2 linked regions of the Homo sapiens genome follow. The protein of the gene in region 1 purifies or fractionates together with the protein of each later gene. This does not show direct contact. Each region holds a gene or a part of one and is shown in the gene's direction. Other genes may lie near its edges.

Region 1 (3,816 bases):
ATGATCTTAGCTAGACCTGGATAACCTGGTGTTGCTTTTCTGTTAGGTAGCACTTGCTGCTTCACCTTGTACTTTCGTGTTATGGGGACAGCTTCTTTCCTTAAACCTCATGAACCAGCCTCTGCTGCTTCCAACTTTTTTTTTTTTTTTTTTTTTTTTTTTGAGATGGATTTTCACTCTTGTTGCCCAAGCTGGAGAGCAATGGCGTGATCTCGGCTCACTGCAACCTCCACCTCCCGGGTTCAAGCGATTCTCCTGCCTCAGCCTCCGTAGTAGCTGGGAGTACAGGCAGCTGCCACCACATACAGCTAATTTTTTGTATTTTTAGTAGAGACGGGCTCTACTAAATGTTAGCTAGGCTGGGACTTCTGACCTCAGGTGATCCACCTGCCTCAGCCTCTCAAAGTGCTGGGATTACAGGGGTGAGCTGCCGTGCCTGGCTCCAACTTTTCTTCTGCATCTTCCTCACCTCTCTCAGCCTTCATAGAATTGAAGAAAACTTGGGCCTGGTTCTCGATTAGGCTTCAGTTTAAGGGAATGTTGTGGCTGGTTTGATCTAATCAGACCACTCATACTTTCCACATATCACCAATAAGGCTGTTTCACTTTCTTTCCCTCCCTCCCTCTTTTTTTGAGACTATTGCCCAGGTTGGAGTGCAGTGGTATGATCATGGCTCACTGCAACCTCTGCCTCCTGGGTGCAAGCAATTCTCTTGCCTCAACCTCCCGAGTAGCTGGGATAACAGGTGTGCAGCATGTGTCCAGCTAATTTTTGTATTATTAGTAGAGGTAAGGTTTCACCATGTTGACCAGGCTGGTCTCGAACTCCTGACCTCAAGTGATCCGCCCGCCTTGGCCTCCCAAAGTGTTGGGATTACAGGTGTGAGCCAACGGACCTGGCCATTTTCTTATTCATGTGTTCACTGGAGTAGCACTTTTTAATTGCCTTTAAGTTTTCCTTTGTTCTGAGAGGTGATTTAAAATTTCAAAAATTTGTGTATGTATTTTTTTAATTTCAAAAATTGGAAAGAAACTTCTGCTTTGCATTTACAACTTGGCTAACTTGTTTTTTTCTTTTCTTTTCTTTTTTTTTTTTTTTTTGAGATGGAGTCGCTCTGTCGCCCAGGCTAGAGTGCAGTGGCGCGATCTTGGCTCACTGCAACCTCTGCCTCCCGGGTTCAAGTGATTCTCTTGCCTCAGCCTACCAAGTAGTTGGGACTACAGACGTGAGCCACCACGCCCGGCTAATTTTTGTATTTTTAGTAGAGACAGGGTTTCGCCGTATTGGCCAGGCTGGTCTTGAACTCCTGACCTCAAATAATCCACCCACCTTGGCCTCCCAGAGTACTGGGATTACAGGCATGAGCCACCGCACCCAGCCCTTTTTTGTTTTTTTTTAAAGAGATGAAGTCTCCCTATGTTATCCAGGCAGGTCTCAAACTCCTGGCCTCAAGTGGTCCTCCTGCCTCAGCCTCAGGCATGATCCACTGTTCCTGGCCTTGGCTATGTTTTTGAGAGACAGGGTCTCATTCTGTTGCTCAGGTTGGGATGCAGTGGTGAGATCATAGCTCACTGCACTCTTGACCTCTTGGGCTAAAGTGGTTCTCCCACCTCAGCCCCCTGAGTAACTGGGACTACAGGGATGTGCCAGCATGCCCAGCTAATTTTGAAAAAGTTTTGTAGAAGTGAGGTCTCATTATGTTGCCTCGGCTGTCTCTTAAGTTCCTTTCCAGAATGGTGAATCCTTTCAAGCCGCCTTCCTGCCTCGTCCTTCCGAAGTGTTGGGATTACCCATATGAATCACTGTTCCTGACCTGAACATCAAAGATCACTGATCACAGATCCCCGTAACAGACATAATAATGACAAAGTTTGAAATAGTGAAGAATTACCAAAATGTAACACAGACACAAAGTGAGCTCCTGTTTTTGGAAAATTGGCACCAATAGGCTTGCTTTCTTCATACAGGGTTGCCACAGATCTTCAACTTGTGAAAAACATAGTACCTGCTGAGTGCAATAAAGCAAAACACAATAAAAGGTAAAATGAGGTGCTTATAGCCAGGCGCAGTGGCTGACGCCTGTAATCCCAGCACTTTGGGAGGCCGAGGCGGGTGGATCACGAGGTCAGGAGATCGAGACCATCCTGGCTAACACTGTGAAACCCCGTCTCTACTAAATATACAAAGAATTAGCTGGGCGTAGTGGCGGGCACCTGTATTCTCAGCCACTTGGGAGGCTAAGGCAGGAGAATGGCGTGAACCCAGGGGGCGGAGCTTGCAGTGAGCCGAGATCGCGCCACTGCACTCCAGCCTGGGTGACACAGCGAGACTCCATCTCAGAAAAAAAGAAAAAAGAAAAATGAGGTGCTTATAGTCTGTTGAATCTAAAATGCAGCAGTGTGTTATACCACTACAGATGCTCCCAGTGCCTTCTGGCACGCTGCTTTCTTACCCCATCAGTGAAGGATGCTTTTCACTTCAGACATTTAAAAGTGTGCCTTAGAATTGATGAAACATGGTCAGTGAAGTATGACTTGTTTCAAAGATTAACCTTCTGCGCTTATGATCTAAGTGCCAGCAGGTTCTGTGGTAATGATACTGAGTACAATGCATTTTGTTGGGATTCCTGTACTCTATATGTAGTTAACGTTTCTCTGGCAGTAACTTTAGAAAAGTACTACTTGTGAGGCCAGGTGCGGTGGCTCACACCTGTAATCCTAGCGCTTTGGGAGGCCGAGGTGGGTGGATTGCCTGAGGTCAGGAGTTTGAGACCAGCCTGGCCAAGATGGGGCAACCCCTGTCTCTACTAAAAATGCAAAATTAGCTGGGTGTGGTGGCAGGAGCCTGTATCCCCAGCTACTCGGGAGGCTGAGGCAGGAGAATCACTTGAACCAGGAGGTGGAGGTTGCAGTGAGCTGAGATCGCTCCAGTGCACTTCAGGCTGGGCGACAGAGCAAGACTCCATGTCCGAAAAAAGAGAAAAAAAAATACTACTTGTAAATAGCAGAAATAGAAAGGTGCTACTTATGAGAAGTAACATCCTATTTGCGGCTTACACTTTTGTTGCAAATTGTTAAAAGTGTCTGAAACTGTTTAGAAGGACAGCCTGAAACTGCTAAAGTGATGCAAAGTATAGACTCTGGTGGGAGAGGGGGCGTCTTAAATTTTCACGTTTGCTTGGCCTCTGGGGGCCTCTTAACAGCACTTTAAAGGAAATAAATAGATGAAGAAGAGAACAAATTATTTTGAAATACAGTTATTAAAATACTGTATTGAACCAAATTGGTGATAGTCCCATTTATTAGCTTAGTAACCGGATTGAGCTGTGGCTCTGGTAATTCATTTGGGAGTAGTGACGAGATTTTTTGTGACACTCTAATGCTTTGGAAAATACCTGTTGCTGTTCCTGCTAAAACTCCAGGGCTTATTGTCTGCCTTTGTAATTGAAGGAGTGCTACATTTCAGCTAGAAGTTTTTGCCTTTTATCATTCATGTTCACAAATACCAAGTTGATTTACTCTCAGCCTATCCATTTGTAGGAATATATGGTGTCCTTTCTTTACTTCCTCAAATGATTATATTGATGACAAAAGAGACAAGGAAATAAAAACGGCACAGATAGGGGAACCCAAAGCCTAACAGTGTGTGTCCTTGGAGGTGAGGGTGAAGGAAGTGGCTGCAGGCCCTGGGAAGTACCATCTTGCATCCGTGTGCAGCACTGAGTGGATACCTCATGGTTCTGTCTTGTGTACACTGTTCAGGAGGACATGTAGAGTGGACATATCACATAGAAGAAGGTCAGTCTGGAAACTGTT
Region 2 (3,816 bases), on another chromosome or scaffold:
TCAGACCCAGGCTAGAGTTGATGGATATAATCGCTGAAAACGTGCTCAGGTATCTCAGAGCTTGTGTTTGATCCAAAAGAGTTTGGTTCTTATAATGCTTTTAATTTATGAGCTCCTTCTCATGGAAGACCCTCACTCTTGCCAGTGCAAGGTGGTCTTTTGGAAAACTGAGATAGGCATGGAAGAATATAAAAGAGAAGATGGGGGCTGGGGGGAGGTGGAGATAGTTAATGGGTACAACAAAAAATAGAATAAGACCTACTATTTGATAGCACAACAGGGTGACTATAGTTAATAATAATTACGTATTTTTAAACTTAAAAAGTGAGACTGGGCATGGTGGCTCACACTTGTAATCCCAGCATTTTGGGAGGCCAAGGCGGGTGGATCACTTGAGGTCAGGGGTTCGAGACCAGCCTGGCCAACATAGTGAAACCCCGTCTCTACTAAAAATACAAAAATTAGCCAGGTTTGGTGGCCTGTGCCTGTAGTCCCAGCTACTCGGGAGACTGAGGCATGATAGTCTGTTGAACCCGGGAGGCAGAGGTTGCAGTGAGCTGAGATCGCGCCACTGCACTCCAGCCTGGGCAACAGAGGGAGACTCCGTCTCAAAAAAAAAAAAAAAAAAAGAGTGTAATTGGATTGTTTTGTAACTCAAAGAGTAAGTGCTTGAGAGGATGTGTCCCCCCATTCTCCGTGATGTGCTTATTTCACATTGCATGCCCACATCAAAACATCTCATGGACCCCATAAATACATGCGCCTGCTATGTACCCCCCAAAAATTAAAAATAGAGAGGATGAGAAACTTAGGAAGTTGTTGTCAGCAGTTGGAGAGGAGGATCATCCTATCTACCCATTCTTTCAAGATAGCCAAAAGCTACCCATTCTTTAAAGATAGCCAAAAGCTTAAACCTGTGTCAGTAAAAAGGGCCCTAGTTTAAAAAAATAAACCTCCAGCAGTTATTTTTAAATATACTGCATGTACTTGAATTTCATAAGCAAAAAAAAAAAAAAAGCTGATTAAATTTTAATATAGCATCCAGTCTATAGAGGAAGTGCTCCCAGCCGAGTCTGCACTCTGTGGTACAATTGATTGTTGCAGCCCCTAAAATCTTAAAAGCATATGGGCTATTTTTGGAAGTTCTCTGTCAAGGAGAGTAGGAGTGGGAGTCAAAAGTGATCTTTCATTTTAATTTAAGACTCTTTGTGGCTGCATTGCTTTGGTTGAAGAACCATTTGTTTTTATTGAGACACAGATATCCTATTTCAATCAACCTGAGAGCTTCAATGCCCCATAAATGGTTTAAGAGAATGCTAAAATGTACTCGCCAGGACTCAGTGATGCTTTCCTGTCAGGGGGAAGAAAGAGAGAGAGAGTGGGTACAGCTGTAACACGTTGGGTCTGAGTCAGTTTTTGGTTATTTTTTTGAGACACAGTCTCACTCTGTTGCCCAGGCTGGAGTGCAGTGGTGGAATCTCTGCTCACTGCAACCTCTGCCTCCAGGGTTCAAGCAATTCCCCTGCTTTAGCCTCCCAAGTAGCTGAGATTACAGGCACACACCACCATGCCCAGCTGATTTTTGTATATTTTTGTTTTAGTTTTTATTTATTTATTTTGAGATGGAGTCTCGCTGTGTTGCCCAGGCTGGAATGCAGTGGCGTGGTCTCGGCTCACTGCAACCTCTGCCTCCCGGTTTCAAGCGATTCTCCTGCCTCAGCCTCCCAAGTAGCTGGGATTACAGGTGCCTGCCACCATGCCCGGCTAATTTTTTGTATTTTTAGTAGAGTCGTGGTTTCTTCGTGTTGGCCAGGTTGGTCTCCACCTCCTGTTCTCGTGATCCGCTCGCCTCGGCCTCCCAAAGTGCTGGGATTACAGGCATGAGCCACTGCGCCCAGCCATTTTTGTATATTTTATAGAGACGGGGTTTTGCCACCTTGACCAGACTGGTCTCGAACTCCTGACCTCAACTGATCCGCCCGCCTTGGCCTCCCAAAGTGCTGAGATTACAGGTGTGAGCCACTGCACCCGGCCTGAGAGTCAGTATTTATATGATTTATCTAGCCAGCATTTATTTAGTGCCTGCTATGTGCCAGGCAGTGGGGATAAAAAAAGCAAAATGGTCCATGACTCTTAGGAGCTCATAAGCTAACAAATGTTGCTTCCTTTGCAGTGAAGATAGACGAGGCCCAACGAGAGATTTTCATATTCTGTTTGTGCCACGCCGTAGCCTGTTGTGCGAACAGCGGTTGAAGGATCTGGGTGTCTTGGGATCCTTTATTCACAGGGAGGAGTACAGCTTAGATCTCATTCCATTCGATGGGGATCTCTTATCCATGGAATCAGAGGGTGCATTCAAAGTAAGTTTGGCATTTCCTTAACTTCAGGCATTAATTTTTGCCCAGTTTATGAGTGTGAGCATACCACAGTACTGATTACTGTGAAGCTGAGTCCCATTTTATATGTTTATTGATGTTTAAGATTTTCTGTTCAACAAATTGTTCATTTTCTTTGCCCGTTTTTTCTTTTTGAGTAATTCTTTGTATATTCTGGATGTTGATCATTATGGATTATAAAAGCTGCAAGTATCTTCCCAGTCTGTGACTTGTCTTTTAACTTTGTTTTTTTGTTTTGTTTTGTTTTTTTGAGACGGAGTCTCGCTCTGTCGCCCGGGCTGGAGCGCAGTGGCGCGATCTCAGCTCACTGCAGCCTCCGCCTCTTGGGTTCAAGGGATTCTTCTGCCTCAGCCTCCTGAGTAGCTGGGATTACAAGTGTGCGCCACTATGCTTAGCTGATTTTTGTATTTTTAGTAGAGACAAGGTTTCACCATGTTGCTTGGCCAGGATCCGCTTCATGATCCGCCCGCCTCCGCCTCCCAAACTGCTGGGATTACAGGCGTGAGCCACCGCGCCTGGCTTAACTTTGTGTATAATGTCTTTTATCATGTAGACACTTCCCATTAAAAGTAGTTAAATTTTAAAATTTTAAAATATTAGCTTTATTTATTATAACTCACAATACTGGCTGAGGTAAGTGGCTCATGCCTGTAATCCTAGCACTTTAGGAGGCTGAGGCGGGTGGATCACCTGAGATCAGGAGTTTGAGACCAGCCTGGGAAACATGGGGAAACCCCGTCTCTACTAGAAATACAAAATTAACCGGGTGTGGTGGTGGGTCCCTGTGGTCCCAGCTATTCAGGAGGCTGAGGCAGGAGAATCACTTGAACCCGGGAGGTGGAGGTTGCAGTAAGCCGAGATTGCGCCACTGCACTCCAGCTTGGGCGACAGAGGGAGACTCTATCTCAAAAAAACAAAAAACAAAAAACAAAAAAAAAAACTCACAATGCCATGAAATTCTCTCCTTTAAGGTGCAAAATTCAGTGGTTTTTAGTGTATTTACAAAGTTGTGCAACTATCTCCACTCTCTAAGTATGGCACATTTTAACTATTCCGAAAAGAATCCCCATGCCCAGTAGCAGTCTGTCGCTATCTTTCCTTCCCTCAGCCTCTGGCAGCCACTAATCTAGTTCAGTCTGTATGAATTCGCTTATTCTGGAGTTTTCCTTTTCTTCTTTTTTTGAGATAGAGTCTCACTCTTTTGCCCAGGTTGGAGTGCAGTGACGTGATAATACCTCACTGCAGCCTTGACCTCCTAGGCTTGAACGAATTTTCAGCCTCAGCCTTTTGAGTAGCTGGAACTACAGGCATGTGCCGCCACACCTGGCTAATTTTTTTTTAATTTCTTTTTTTTTCTATTTTTATTTTTTGGAGAGACAGCGTCTTATTATGTTGTCCAGGCTGGTTTTGAACTTATTCT

The links.
Region 2: the proteins of PKNOX1 (region 1) and VPS33A purify together in Homo sapiens (affinity purification with mass spectrometry, with the first as the bait; one large-scale study listed by BioGRID). This does not show direct contact.

What each region holds. Positions count from the first base shown.
Region 1 is NC_000021.9:42,977,403-42,981,218, forward strand, and holds part of PKNOX1 (homeobox protein PKNOX1), read left to right. Parts: intron 1-3,816. UniProt on the Homo sapiens protein: Activates transcription in the presence of PBX1A and HOXA1.
Region 2 is NC_000012.12:122,259,805-122,263,620, reverse strand, and holds part of VPS33A (vacuolar protein sorting-associated protein 33A), read left to right. Parts: coding exon 1-49; intron 50-2,173; coding exon 2,174-2,360; intron 2,361-3,816.